Homo sapiens: one gene and its partner. The protein of the gene in region 2 interacts with the protein of the main gene of each other region in a biochemical or structural test. Each region holds a gene or a part of one and is shown on either strand. Other genes may lie near its edges.

Region 1 (7,577 bases), on a different chromosome or scaffold from region 2:
TGATAAATAGCTTTTAAGCTGAAGTACTACTCCATATATAATCATGGGTCCTTTCAGACAATCTAAATTCAACTACCATTTTGCTATGATGTGCTAGTTTGCCAAATACAATGCAATATGCAATGAAATGTAAATTTAGAAATTCAACTTTACTTTGGGCTTTTGCCCAAGGTGGCCTAATTTTTATCTTGGCAAAGAATGTTAAAAGATCATAAGCTTATTAGTTCAGTACAAAACCAGCCTGCATTTGACAGTCAGTTTTCACTTATTAATGACATTAGAAAAACGAATAACAATTCCCTAAGATTTCCTATATAACCCGAGTAGAGAAGATATAAGTGAGCAATTCAGATGTAAATATTAATATAACAAAATTTATCTCCAGCTTACTCTGCGCCCAGCACTTGACTAGGGACTTTTACATGTTATCACAAATATTTTGCCTTCTTTTCCCTACTTGGAAATTACAGAAAACTACATATCTCAACCATCTGTGCCCTGTAGATTAAAAACGACAACAACAACAAACTATATGTGTTGGAGAAGGGGGAGAAATAATCTGAAACCAAAAAATTTCTATATAAATCTAAATAAGTGTTCAAGATACAAACTGCCGCAACAAAAAAAAAACCGTGGTGGGGAGGGGGTGTCAGAATCTTCCATAATATACAAGTGATTATTTCAAATAGTTAAAACAAAAAGTTTGCTTTTAATTACCCATATTTAATTCTAAACAACCCCATAACAAATAGTATCCTTCAATCCAACCCCAATAAAATAGAGGTGACCCAAGTGTCTTACATCCTCAACTGCAAACATACTGCTTTACGACTTCACTTACATTCAAATTTGGGAAGTGCATTTACTTTCCACCAAGATGCTAAGTATTTTATTTATTCATCCATTTTCTTGAATGAAGTATCTTTAAAAATAGGAATCTTAGCACCTCTCGTGTGTTAGGCAGAAAATAAGTTTCAGTCAAGCAAAATACATCAAAAACTCAAGAAATCACCAAAATTTGTTTAAAAATCCCAACACTGTCTGGTTGACAGTATGGACAGTTCTTTATATTAAGTCTACTGATCAACTGAGGCATCCCCTAAATGAGAAAACAAAATTTCCAGTGGCCACTATTTGGTACTAAGAATTGGGTTGTGCTTCAACTCCTAAAATGATGCTGCAGTTTTAAAAATTAATCTTACTGGAATCTCCTGGAAGCTAAGATAGTGAAAAAAATACACTAACATTAGTTGCCAACTGTAATTTTTTCCTCAAAGACACCTTGCGATGACATTAAAATATTTTCCATGGACACGTAAAATTTAAACTTCAGTTAAATTTTATACAGTAATTTAAAAAAAGAGAACATTAAGCAGGGCATTAAACTAACAAATTTTAAAAGTGTTTTTTTAGCATAATTTGGTTTATTAAGTCCCAAGACTTAATTCTAAATTTTTACCATGAAACTGTAACAAGGAAAGAACATTTGAAAATACGATCATCGCCATTTTCTAAATAGAGAAGTATTTACATTTTAACTCAATTCAGATAGTTCAGTCAGTGTTAAAGAAGCAAAAACAGGCAAACAGGGTAATGGCTTGCATTATAAACAGAAGTGGTAAAATGTGTATTAAGACGGGTAATGGCAAAACTGAAAATAAAACTTAAGGCAAACCGTCAGACTTCAAACAACCAAAACTCAATGAATCTAGGTTAAAATAAGAAAAGATATTTTAAAAAAATGAAAAGAACCATGTTCTTTAAAAAAAAAAAATGTGGAATGTAAAGATCACAATTTAAGACAACCGATCAAAGGAAAGGGCTGCTTTAAGCCTCTACTGTTTACTAACACTTAAAATTAGCATTTCTAGCCAACATCTAGGTTTGAAAATTGCAACGGCACTTAAACGCCGTCTTTTCTAACGTCACCCCAACAGAACATTCTGCAACACTGTGGACAGTAAACATTAAGCAGAGTAAAGCATCGTTCGTGTATTTATATCTCCAAGGGTCAATGGGAAAAAATTAAACGTTTCTCTCTCCCATATATAGCCTTAACCACTCTCTTCCCTCTTTTTATTTACTGCCCTTGTCGCGGGGTTAATGAACCCTAAACTTCTTTTTCTTCTTCCCATTAATGGAAATGGGAAAAAAAGAGCAACTGCAGAGTGGAACCCAGATAAGAAAAACTGAAAATTCAAAGTAGTAGTATTACTTGCCGGGCGAGGGCTGGGAACACCCTAAAGGCTTAGCACGGGGAGACAATCCCGGAAGACCCCCGTTAACACATACTTCACCCCAAGGCTACACCATTTTGGTGTGATGTGTAATTTTTGCTTTTGAAGGAGGTGGTAGCAGTCCCGGACTAACCTTCCTCCGAACACAGCTCCCCTCCCTAAGGCCCCAGGCAGCACGGCTTGCGGGGCGATGTCCCGGCTCCAAATTTGCAGCGAGGCCCGGAAATCGGTCCCGTTAGAGCCGATTTCACCCGTCAGGAATGCGTTCCGCCCCCGCCGCCTCCCCGCGGCAACCGCCCTTGGGTCTCCCCCGCTTTAGGGGCAGGAGACAGCTCGAGGGGAGCGCCGCCTCGGCCCGTCATAATATCGCCGGGCCGGCCGCCGGCCGCACAGGCACCAGGAGGACAGGGCTTGGGGCGGATCCCACGCTCCACCTCGGCCCCCGCGGCCCGGGAGACGCCCGCGCCTGGGCCGGGTAGGGGACCCGGAGCTGACCGAGGCCTGACCCCCTAAGCCGGCCACGGCCCCGAGCCCACGCTGGACACTGGAGGAGACGCCTTTCCCACCGGACTTCCGAATCCATTTCTGTCCCGGGCAGGGGCGCTAGGGCTGCGGCCCGGCCAGAGCTCCCTGGGTCGTAAGCGAGAGCCGCCCCTTCTCTCCCGCTCCGGGGCGCAAGCTCCTCCGGGTGCCCGCCCGTACCTTTAACTCCTCAGAGCGGCGGCAGCGCAGGGTGGCGGGCGAGTAGGCCCATCTCCCAGCAGCGGCGACAGCAGCCTGAGGAAGCGCGGGGGAGGGTCCCTCCGATGCGCCGAGGCGCCTCTCAACCGGGGCGGAGACGACGGAGGGGAGGAGTCCCGACGGCCGCTTTCCCGAACTCCTCCTCCGCAGTTGTGGCTCGACGGCTGCTCCCGGGAACCAGCGCCGCAACTACCACCTCCCCCTCCCGCAGCCCCCGCTTTCCCCTCCTCCTCCTCCCACTTCTTCCTCCCGCCCCCGGCCGCCCCGCCCCAGCGCGCCGCCCGCGTGCTGTGCGTCATGGCGTCACGCCCACCGGGCCCGCTGCGGGCGGCTCTGGACGCGGCTGTTCCCTTGCGCACGTTCGTTCCGCGCCCGCGCAGGAGCCGCCCCGCTGCACCCGGGTGGCCCCGACTGCGGCCCCCACGCCTGTCCCTGGCGGAGGGGACTTCGCCTCGAGCGCGCCGGGCAGTGGGGCCGGTGTCTCCCTGGCCGGTTCTCCGTGGCCCAGAGAGCGTCTCCTCCAAGGACAGGTCGGGGTGGCTGGAGCTGCGCCCGGTTGAAGGGAGTTGCCAGACTCGGCGACTCTGGCTCTTGGCAGTTTGCCCGGCATTATTCATTCCTTTGTGTTCTCAGGGTTCACCTGCTAGATTGGCAGGCCGAGGGAGAGAAGTGCCGGGATGTTGCAGCTCTCGGCGAGGAAATGTCCTTTCCCAGAGGACGGCAGCACCCTGTGCGTCTGCAGCCGCCCTCTTAGTGCACCTGTCTTTGCAGAGGCTGTTAGGAACAGTACTTAGCCACAATAGCAAGCCTACGTGAGGGTTTGGAGAGTATCTTCCATTCATCTCTTTTATTTCATTTTTTTTTTACTATTTTGCAGTCAAGTAATCAGAATTCCTATTTCATCTCTAATACATTCCTAATTACTTTAATCCAGCTTTATTTGTTCCTTCGTCTCATATCTTTTCAGCCAGTCATATCCCCTTTGAATGTTTCAATCTACACTAGTCTTGGTATTCTTAGTTGAATAAACAAATTCCGTCTGGGCCTGGTGCATTTCCTCCTGGTTTATTCTCTTCAAGATTTAGATCACTCTAACATAGAATACTGAGAAACGAATGTGATAGAGGCTGGACAGAATGTCCATTTGCCATCTGTTACTTAACTAAATATATCACTCTCCCAGTCCTTGTTTAGTGTGTCTGTGTAATTTAAATTAGAAACAAACCAAGGAGCCATGGTCTTTCCGAATGTACTTGGTATCTTTGGTAACCCAGTAAATGTTTACCAATTAGAAAATTGAACAAGCTAGGCAGTTTAGGTTTAAGTGTCTTTGGCCTCGAATCTTAAAGGAAGTAATTATGGGTATGTTTATTTTCATTTATGGGAAGTTTTAAAGCTGTTATACCTTTAAATGCTACTTGAAGGCTGCCAGCGACTTTACATATGGGATGCTTTAAGCCTACAGATAGCACAAGAATAGTAAGTTAAGTACCCATATATAATATCCTTCTTGAAAATATATCAATATGTTGGCCGGAATTGGTGGCTCACGCCTGTAATCCTAGCACTTTGGGAGGCCGAGGCGGGCGGATCACGAGGTCAGGAGATCGAGACCATCCTGGCTAACATAGTGAAACCCCGTCTCTACTAAAAATACAAAAAATTAGCTGGGCGTGGTGGCGGGCGCCTGTAGTCCCAGCTACTCGGGAGGCTGAGGCAGGAGGATGGCGTGAACCCGGGCGGCGGAGCTTGTAGTGAGCAGAGATCTCGCCACTGCACTCCAGCCTGGGCGACAGAGCGAGACTCCGTCTCAAAAAAAAAAAAAAAAAAAAAAGAAAAGAAAATAGATCAACATGTTAAACAACATTTCAGCACAGATGGGGCACTGGCTTGAAAGGGGATTTTGAATAAAGAAGCTGTGCGGAATGAAAATGGTCTTACACTCTGTACAACGGTAATATTTTCCAGAGATGCTGCTTCTGGCTTTCTTGTCTTCCTAAAAATTAGAAGGACTTTCTATTCTTCACTAGGCCAAATAAATCTATTAAAAAACAAATACCTATTGAACATCCCCAACTTGAATTCCTAGAGGCACCTCAGATTCAGGCTGTCCAAGATGTAGTTTGTTCTTTCCTCAAAGCATGCTTCTTTCATTCACCCAGACACAAGCCAGAAACCTAGGATTGTTCCCAGGCCCCATTCTTTTTGTCCCTTCCAATTCATAACTAACCACCAAGTCCTGTTTATTATACCCCGGAAATATCCCTGTGCTCTCTGTTCTATATCTCCCTCTGCTTTTAGAGCAGTGTTTTCAAATTTGGCTGCATATTCTTATGTCCACGTTGCACCCAACAATTAAATCAGAATCACTGAGGGTGGTGCTCAGGCATCAGTAGTTTTTAAAACTCCCCAAGTGTGCTGGGCACGGTGGCACACACCTGTAGTCCTAGCACTTTGAGAAGCAGAGGTGGTTGGATCACTTGAGTCCAGGAGTTCAAGACCAGCCTGAGCAAGATGGCGAAAATACAAAAATTAGCCTGGCATGGTGGCCCACGTCTGCAGTCCCAGCTACTCCAGGGGGCTGAGGCAGGAGGATCATCTCCATAGCCTTAGGAGGTCAAGGCAGCAGTGAGCCCTGGTCACACCACTGGCCTCCAGCCTGGGCGACAGAGTGAGACCCTGTCTCAAGAAAGAATGAAAGAAGGGAAGGAGGGAGGGAGAGAAAGAAAGAAAGAAAACCGGGCGCAGTGGCTCACGCCTGTAATCCCGGCACTTTGGGAGGCTTAGGTGAGTGGATCACTTGAGGCCAGGAGTTTGATACCAGCCGGGACAACATGATGAAACCTCATCTCTATAAAAAATACAAAAATTGGCTGGGCATGGTGGCACACTCCTGTAATCCCAGCTCCTCAGGAGACTGAGGCATGAGTCGCTTGAACCTGGGAGGCAGAGGTTGCAGCGAGCTGAGATTGTGCCACTGCACTCCAGCCTGGGCAATAGAGCGAGACTCTGTCTCAAACAAAACAAAACAACAACAACAACAAAAATAAATACATAACCTCTTTCCAGGTAATTGCAATGCATGACCAAGGTTGGAAACCACTGCCAGGGCCTCATCATTTCCCACTGGAATACTGCAAAAGCCTAATTGGCCCCAGGTGCCTTAATTTTTGGCAGTATTCTCTTTTGTTTCCCTCCTCTCTTCTAATTCATTTAACATCAATTCGATAAACATTTGAATGCTTACTATATTGGGGATGGGGTGTTTGCCATTACAGGCACTGAGACTATAGCAATGAAAAAGCCTACATATCCGTTTGCATGGTGCTTACATTGGGGGATGAGGAATAAAGAAGGAAAAATAATGAAAAGGAAATACACTTACCAGAGTAACAGAAACCAAAGAGGCTGTAACTTAGTTTGGTCTCTCAAACTAACGTCAATTCTTCTGACATTTGAGCTGGATTCTATAAGACAAGAAGAAGGCAAACTAGTTAGGAGGTGGGGAAGACGGAGGAACAGCAGACGCAAAGGTCTTAGCCAGAAACACTTGTCAAATTCAAGGCAGCTAGAGGCTGAACATAGCAAAAGGGAGGGGAGTATGACGTGGGCCAGGGGACGGGGGGTGGTCAGAAAAGTAGGAGGCAGCTGGATGATTTAATACCTTTTTAGGTATGGTAAGGAGAATTCTAAATGATTGGTATGAAGTGTGATGAGACAATAGATGTTTAAGCAGCGTGACATCTGATTTGTCTTTGAAAAGGATCACTCAGGCTGTTCTGTGGATCAGATTAAGGCAGAGCAAGAGTGGAAGTAGGGAGACCAGTTAAGAGGCTATTCCAGGAATCCAATAAAGATGTCATAGTTCTTTGAACCAAGGTGGAGACTGTGGAGACAGAAGTGGATGGTTTTGGTTTTGGTTTTGGTTTTAGAGGTATAATCAGTCATACTTGCATGGAATGGAATAAAAGTGGCAAGTAAAGAGAAAGAGAACTACTTTTTTTTTGAGACAGAGTCTTACTCTGTCACCCAGTGGCTCAATATTGGCTCATTGCAACCTCCACCTCCTGGGCTTAAACAATCTTCCCCCCTCAGCCTCATGAGTAGCTGGGACTTCAGGCACATGCCACCATGCCTGGCTAATTTTTGTATTTTTTGTAGAGACGAGGTTTTGCCATGTCGCTCAGGTGGGTCTTGAACTCCTGGGCTTAAGTAATCTGCCCAGCTCAGCCTTACAAAGTGCTGGGATTGCAGGCATGAGCCACGTGCCCAGCCGAGAACTACTCTTTATTGCATACATACTATATATACTATATATAGTACACTATATGTTCACTTTATTGAGTACACATACTATATATACTTTTTATTGAGTACATATACTATATGACAGGCACTATTCTGATTGCTTTATAAGTATTAAGCCACTTAGTTTATCATCAAGAATCCCTAAAGCTCCCAAATTAGGATCTGAGGCACAAGAGTTTAAGTAATTTGCTGAAAGTTACGTAGCTAAGTGGCAGAGCTGGGATTTGGACCATCCGGCAGGCTGGCTCCAGAGCTCATGCTCTTCTCTTAAACCTACCCCTGGCCCCTTCC
Region 2 (7,000 bases):
GTCAGGGAATCCAACTAACTGATTTGCACTACCAGATGCAGGAATTAGAAGCACCGTGTACTTCTGAAGATGATAGCAACTATGTTAAAGAATGAAGAAGCTCTCTATATACTAACACATAAAGTCCTCCAACGTGTCAGATAAAAAAAAGCAAGAAACAAAACTGTGTGTACAGTGCGACACCTTTATTGTAAAAAGGAAGATAAAGATACGCATTTGTATTTGACTGCAAAAATTTAAATAAGATTTGCACATAAAACTCTATAAAAGCCGGGCATGGTGGCTCATGCCTGTAATCCCAACATTTTGGGAGGCTGAGGCAGGTAGATCAGTTGAGGTCAGGAGTTCGAGACCAGCTTGGCCAACATGGCGAAACCCTGTCTCTACCAAAAATACAAAAATTAGCCAGGTGTGGTGGCTGTAGTCCCAGTTATGGAGGCTGAGGCATAAGAATCACTTGAACCCAGGAGGCAGAGGTTGCAGTGAGCCAAGATCACACCATTGCATTCCAGCCTGGGTGACAGAGCAAGACTCTGTCTCAAAAAGAAAAAGAAAAAAAAAAAAAAACAGCTATAAAAAAGGAACAAAGAGAAGACCAGTAAAGTGATGTTGGAAATTAATATTATTATAACAGAAATAAAAAATTCAATAGCAAGATTGAAAGGCAAGTTTCAGTAGATATATTAGAGATTCAAACTAGAAAAAGTCAAAGTATGGAAAAATAGAGAAGAATCATTAGAAAATCTGAGGATCAGTCCAGTGTGTCTAACATTAGAATAAGAGGATTTTCAAAAGAGGGAACAGAGAAATTGGAGAAGAGAAAATTTTCAAAGAAATTGTACAAAACATTTCCCAGAACTGAAGTACTGAGGGTTCCAGATTGAAAAAGCTTGCTGAGTGCCCACAGCCCAGGAATGAAAACAGACCCACATCATGGCAAAGCATCAAAAAATCAAAATATTGGAGATAAAGAAGAAATCATAAAATCTTCCAAGCCATTGGCAGAGAAGAATAGGGCTTCTCAACAGACACATTAGAAGCAAAAGAAAATGAAATGATGTGTTCAAGATTCTGAAAGAGAATAATTTCCCACCTAGAATCCTATACTGAGTCAAACACTCAATCTGGTAAATTGAAGATATTTTCAGACTGTCAGGGTCTCAAAAAAATTAGCAACTGTTTACCTTCCTTGGGTGGGAAGATATATGACTGAAGCATGAGAATAAACAAAATAGAAAGGAAAAGACAGGTTCAGGAAACAGAGTCTAAACAGGAGAGAAGCACAAGGAATTCCCAGGATGATGTGCATGAGAGACTCCAGGATGATAGCTGTGTGGCAGTGCCAGGAGGCAGCAGTGAAGATGGGGGCAGGAGGAGGGGTCTCCATGAACAGAGAGTAACTGACAAACACCTGAGCTGTCTGAGGGTGCTAAAAGATGGTTTGGTCTTCAGCAGAGTGTTTAGAAACGCATTGTAAATTAAGAAACCAAAATTATTTCCATGGCAAACATAAAATTGTATGAGAAAGAAAATATAACATAGGACAACATAATGAGTCCTTGTGATTAATATTTAAATAACCATAATGATAATTAACACTGAATACTGATTTAGCTCTTGAGAGTGATACAACTATATTCATGGGGGTGGGAGGAAGAGGAAGCAGGAATGTGTGCATGTGTGTAGGTGCGTGTGTGAGAGATAGGAAAGAGAGGGAAAGAGAGAGACAGAACAAGAGAGAACAGGTGCAGTGTTGGATTGTTGGATGCTAAAATGGAGCTAGACACATTTGGATCATTGTTAAAAATACGGATTTAGGAGCCAGACTGAGTTCAAATCCTGGCTCCACAATTTATTGCCATCATTACTATGTAATCTTGGGCAAGATATGTAATCATTCTATGTCTCAGTTTCCAATACGCAAAATTAGGATAATAATAGTATCTGCTTGGCTGGGTGGGGTGGCACATGCTGGTAGTTCTAGCTGCTCAGGAGGCTGAAGTGGGAGGATCTCTTGAGCCCAGAAGTTAGAGGATGCTGTGAGCCAAGATCACACGACTGCACTGCAGCCTAGGTGACTGAGCAAGACCCTGTTTCTTAAAAAAAAAAAAAAGTATCTGCCACATAGTGTCATTGAGAAGATTAAAATAGTACATATGTGTAAAGCACCTGAAATATTCTCTGGGATACTGTACGTGCTTTATAAGTGTTTATAAGTGCTATCATTTTGATTTTCTATAGTAGAATGCCAGTAGATAACAGGGATACTATTTGAAACTGAAAATCTGTATGAGCATGTTACTTAGAAATAGAGAATACTAGAGAAAACACCTGAAGGAAAAGTGAATGGTCGATTCAAAAGAGTGAGGCTAGGGAAGGGGGTGGGTTTGGCACAGGGCACATCCAGTCTTTATTATAATGCTAGTATTACTCTTATAAGTATCTATATCACTTTAACAATAAATTAAAATAGAACACTTAAAAGAAGGTTTTGGTCATAGTCTAAAGATAATAAAGTTTAGACTTTGATGGGCATTTCTGCTTTAATATAAGAGGTGCTGTGGTCAAAAACACTAAAATGAGCACTCTTTCTGCAGGACAAAACCCCTTATGATTAGAGCTAAGTCTGTACCAAGTAAAATATTAACTTGAGGCATTTATCTGAAAAATATCAGGATAATTCAATCCTCCCTGAACCCTTCAATTACCTAGTCCCAAATTAACAGTATTCAAAGAACGAAAGTGTTTGGGTAATTCTGGCATGAATTATTCAGATAATTTGCTACTCCTCTATTTCATTTTTGGATATGAAATCACATTCTGAGTGACCAAAATTGGAAAGAAAAAAAGCTTAAATTTAAATAACAGTTTTTCAAGTGTTCTAACTTGCTGACTCTTCTAGGCATGGATTGCAGATTTCCACAGTCCATGGTGACCAGACTGCAACTTACAGCATCCATGTAGAATGGTCCACGGCACGCACGACATTTCCGCTGATAACCAAAACAGGGAAACCTTGCTATTTTCTGTGATCTCCCTCAGAGTTTTGACTGAGAGCACATCTATAAGTCTCATCTACTAAGAAATGGATTTTGGTTCAAGGCATGAAAACTTGTATTTGAAGTGCCCAAATGGAAACTCACTGTGGGTAGGTGGACTTGTGACCAGAAGGCCAATATTGATAAAGAACACACCATTTTTCCCCGCTGTGGGAAGACAGGCTCAGTCCTTTTTTTATTCATATTTTTCTCTCTTCTTCCACTTTTCCTCTCTCTAGCTTCACCTCTCTCCAAATATCTATGAAGTCTCTATCATGCACCAGGCACCAAGCAAGACACTGGGAGTACACGTGGAGTACAAAGGTGCTATTGGGGATTACTATTTTCATGAAGCTCTTAGGCCTTTTTCACAGAGCTTGCCATGTTTTACTTGAATCCTATTTTCATTCTCTCTTGATTATGATCTCCCTGAGTGAAGGAATCAGGCCTTATCCTGGCAGAGCAAAATGTGTGGCTTAGAGCTGAAAATATTTGCAGAGTGGCCCGGCCATCCAGGGATGTGGCATTAGGAAGATTGTCCATCCGCGCTGTCCTCAGCGTGGGAACGAAGAGCACCAGTGACTGGCCGGGGGAAGGATACTTGATGAAGGCACTGGAAAGTGGCTGTGTAAAGTCTCTATTTGGTATTTTTAAACTCAACTAACCTATTGCTTCTTTGAAACTCCAGCCTTAAGAGATACAGGCAGGCTCTGTTCTTTTAAAGTACAAAGATGCCTCTAGTGGTGGCAGACGTGTGGTGCAAATATGACATTAATAGAACATGTATGTGCTTTGAGGTCACACAATTCAAAACTGGATCTCTGGGGAATAAGGAAAGGAGGGTGGGGGTGGAGAAGTGAGTTGTCCTTAGGTTTTCTGACTATCCTTAAATCAGGAGCGGCTTGTTGAAAGCAAATGGTCTGGTGGGAAGATTTTGGTGTCCAAGGCAGTTCTCTTCCTGTTGTCTTCCTACTGTTGGTTCATGGGTGTTCACAAACTCCACACATTCATTTCCTGCCTCCCTGGAATAGTGATTTAAGAGAGTACGAGGGTCTTCCCTGCCTTTTTTATGTCTCAACATATCATACTTTGACACTAACTAAACTGTTTCACTGTCTTCTTGTGGTGCAATCTGCTTTCTCCTTTTCCCAGTGTAAGGAGCTTATGAAAAGACACCCCATTTGTGCATCCATCTTGGGAACTCTGCCAGCCTCTATAAAGACTTTGCTAAATTGTGCTTAGACACTGGGAAGATGTGATCATTCTGGCTTCTCATAACATGGACATTTTTTCTTTATACACAAGACTCTGCCTTATTGGCAACAATTCCCTGTAATTCTACTGTGCAATGGTCAATAGAAACCCCAAAACCTGGCACATTTGAAAGAAGGAACTGTCGCTTAATTCATGTGAAGAAATAGTTCAAGTTTAGAGCCTCCTCTTCTTCTCCAAGTCATGGTATAAAATGAGGGTTTTCTTTCTGAAAATACTTTGAAACTACAGGCGAGGCTGAGGTGGGTGTGGGCAGGACAGAGAACACAGAACACCTAAGGAAGCATGAGGAGGCAGGAAAGAGAGAGAGAGTGAGAGAGAGAGAAAGAGTTGGCGGGGTTGGGTGGGGACACAGACAGAACACTTGGGGAAGCATTGGTGGGGAGGAACCACGGAGCACCTGGGGGTACACTGTGGGAGAGCACAGAGTACCTGGGGAAGCATGGGAGCTGGGAGGGTCAGTGCTGCTCTAAGGGTTTCTGGAGCAGAGGCAATCACCCAACTTCAGGCACCTGGCTGTTGTCTTTCAACTTTTGCTCATTGGGCATGCAGCCTGATGCCAGCAGGTTAGAAAGGCAAACAGAAAATTATACTTCCGTTCAGGGCTTAGAACATGAAACTACAGGCTGGTTGCAGTGGCTCACACTTGTAATCCCAACACTTTGGGAGGCTGAGGCAGGTGGATCATCTGAGGTCAGGAGTTCAAAACCAGCCTGGCCAACAGGGTGAAACCTCGTCTCTACTAAAAAGACAAAAATTAGCTGGGTGGTAGTGGCATACGCCTGTAATCCTAGCTACTCAGGAGGCTGAGGCAGGAAAATTGCCTGAGCCTGGGAGGTGGAGGTTGCAGTGAGCCAAGATCGCACCACTGCACTCCAGCCTGGGTGACAGAGTAAAACCCTTTCTCAAAAACAAAACAAAACAAAACAAAAATAAAAAACATGAAACTACAGTTTCTGAGCAAAAACTCAAATGTCTATAGTGTTAAGCACCAACTACTTTACTAAATACTTTTTCATTAACAGCTTTAACAAACTTTTCTGAACTGTTGCATTGGTGAGATTTGTCTGTCTCTGGAAGGATGCACTCAACATATATTACATAGTTTGGTAACAACACCCACATGATTGAGTAGGTTTATCATTATCCTTTCAAGAATCAAGCATATGAGTTAAAAATAATGTTAACATTTTAAGGTCAAAAAATGAAAGCAAGATTAAAATATGGTTATTTGATAATATATAGAGAAATGATGGCAAGGAGACATTTGTTCAGCAGCACCAGGGTCTTGTTGCACTGGCTGCATTTTCCCATCAGGATTCTGGAAATGCTTTTTAGTGGGGCTGAGGATATGCTCTGGTTGGGAGCAGGTTTCAGCCAGGGCCTCACCTTTACTTCCCAATGTCTTCCACATCTTTGTTCCTTTTTCTGTTTAGTATGATGTCCTGGCAATAAGGACAGAAATGTGTGTTTGTGTGTGTTAGGGGTGGGGGAATGATACCCTAAACTCTGACTCTCTAATGGGCACAGCAGATGACCATTACTATAGTAGATGTCATCTCACTACTGGCGAAGCAGACCAGTCTCTTTGAAGTGGCTGCTGAACAACCTTAAGATCTATGCAAAATATTTGATACCAGCTCTTGGCTCTCAGTATGAAGTTCCCAGTGTGGCTAATACCTTGGCAGTAAAACCCACACTAATGGTGTTTATTGCTTTATGATTTTTAAGGACTCTATGCTAATGCTGGTGCTAGGATTAGGCGTTTCCTAACCCCTCAGGCAACTGTGCAACTGTGGTCAAAGTGGGTGTTACTGGTGGTGGCCAGGGGTTATGCCCTTTTGCCTATCAGTAACTGGAATCACTGCTCACTTTGTGCCCTAAAGATCTCAGATGGACTTAAACTCTGGGAAATGAATGTTTCACTGGCATTTTAAGACAAGTAATTGCAAACATTTCCTTGGAGTTACAATAACTTAAAAACAACTTGTCTTTTGTAAGATAAAGTAAAGATAAATCTGCTTGTTATAAACCAAGTGATCCTCTACAGTTGAATCACACTGGGGATGCTGCTCAAAGGAATAGAGTTGAATCTAATTTTAAAGGGCATTGAAAAGAAATTTAGATTTTTGCTATCAAGCTGTGAACAATTTAGAAAAATAAACAGCAAACAGAGCCCTCACAGAGCAGACATTCTTTAAAATGTTAAAAATGTTATATTTATTGTCCCTATTTTTCCTTTATCAGAAAAAAATAACAATTTCTTTTAACTAAAATGGAATTCCAATGTATTCCTGGAACCGGGATCCATCGCCTCACTCTTTTCCCCAGGGATATGCTGATAGGGCCATGTAGAGGCAATAACATTTGGCCCCAACTCCAACCCAATGACTGCCACTGACTTCCAAAGTCATACTACTCTGTGCATCCCTGCTACCTGAGAGGAGCCATTTGGTGGTCAAGCAAATTTTGGGGCCAAGATTTGGAGTCATAGCTGAGAGATGAACACTTTAGTTCCTTTCCTTCTTGCAGTGGGGTCCCATAGGCAAAATTAGGCAAGCCTAGGTATTTTTCAGGCCCACATTCCCACTCTAGTCTTAATTTATCAGAAGAATCTTTATTTCAGCCAGAGAGATCCATTCTTGCTTTATCTCAGGAGTGAACCGGCCTAGTTCTCTCTGTCTGTGTGT

The links. Proteins that work in one complex are often made in the same cells at the same time.
Region 1: of the proteins of SNCAIP (region 2) and RNF19A, one has a biochemical effect on the other in vitro, tested with the Homo sapiens proteins (one study listed by BioGRID).

The regions. Positions count from the first base shown.
Region 1 is NC_000008.11:100,306,928-100,314,504, forward strand, and holds the start of RNF19A (E3 ubiquitin-protein ligase RNF19A), read right to left. Parts: upstream 3,027-7,577; 5' UTR 2,940-3,026; exon of another isoform or gene 2,371-2,939; intron 1-2,370. UniProt on the Homo sapiens protein: E3 ubiquitin-protein ligase which accepts ubiquitin from E2 ubiquitin-conjugating enzymes UBE2L3 and UBE2L6 in the form of a thioester and then directly transfers the ubiquitin to targeted substrates, such as SNCAIP or CASR.
Region 2 is NC_000005.10:122,455,237-122,462,236, reverse strand, and holds part of SNCAIP (synphilin-1), read right to left. Parts: exon of another isoform or gene 5,756-7,000; coding exon of another isoform or gene 5,702-5,755; exon of another isoform or gene 2,903-5,701; intron 1-2,902. UniProt on the Homo sapiens protein: Isoform 2 inhibits the ubiquitin ligase activity of SIAH1 and inhibits proteasomal degradation of target proteins. Isoform 2 inhibits autoubiquitination and proteasomal degradation of SIAH1, and thereby increases cellular levels of SIAH.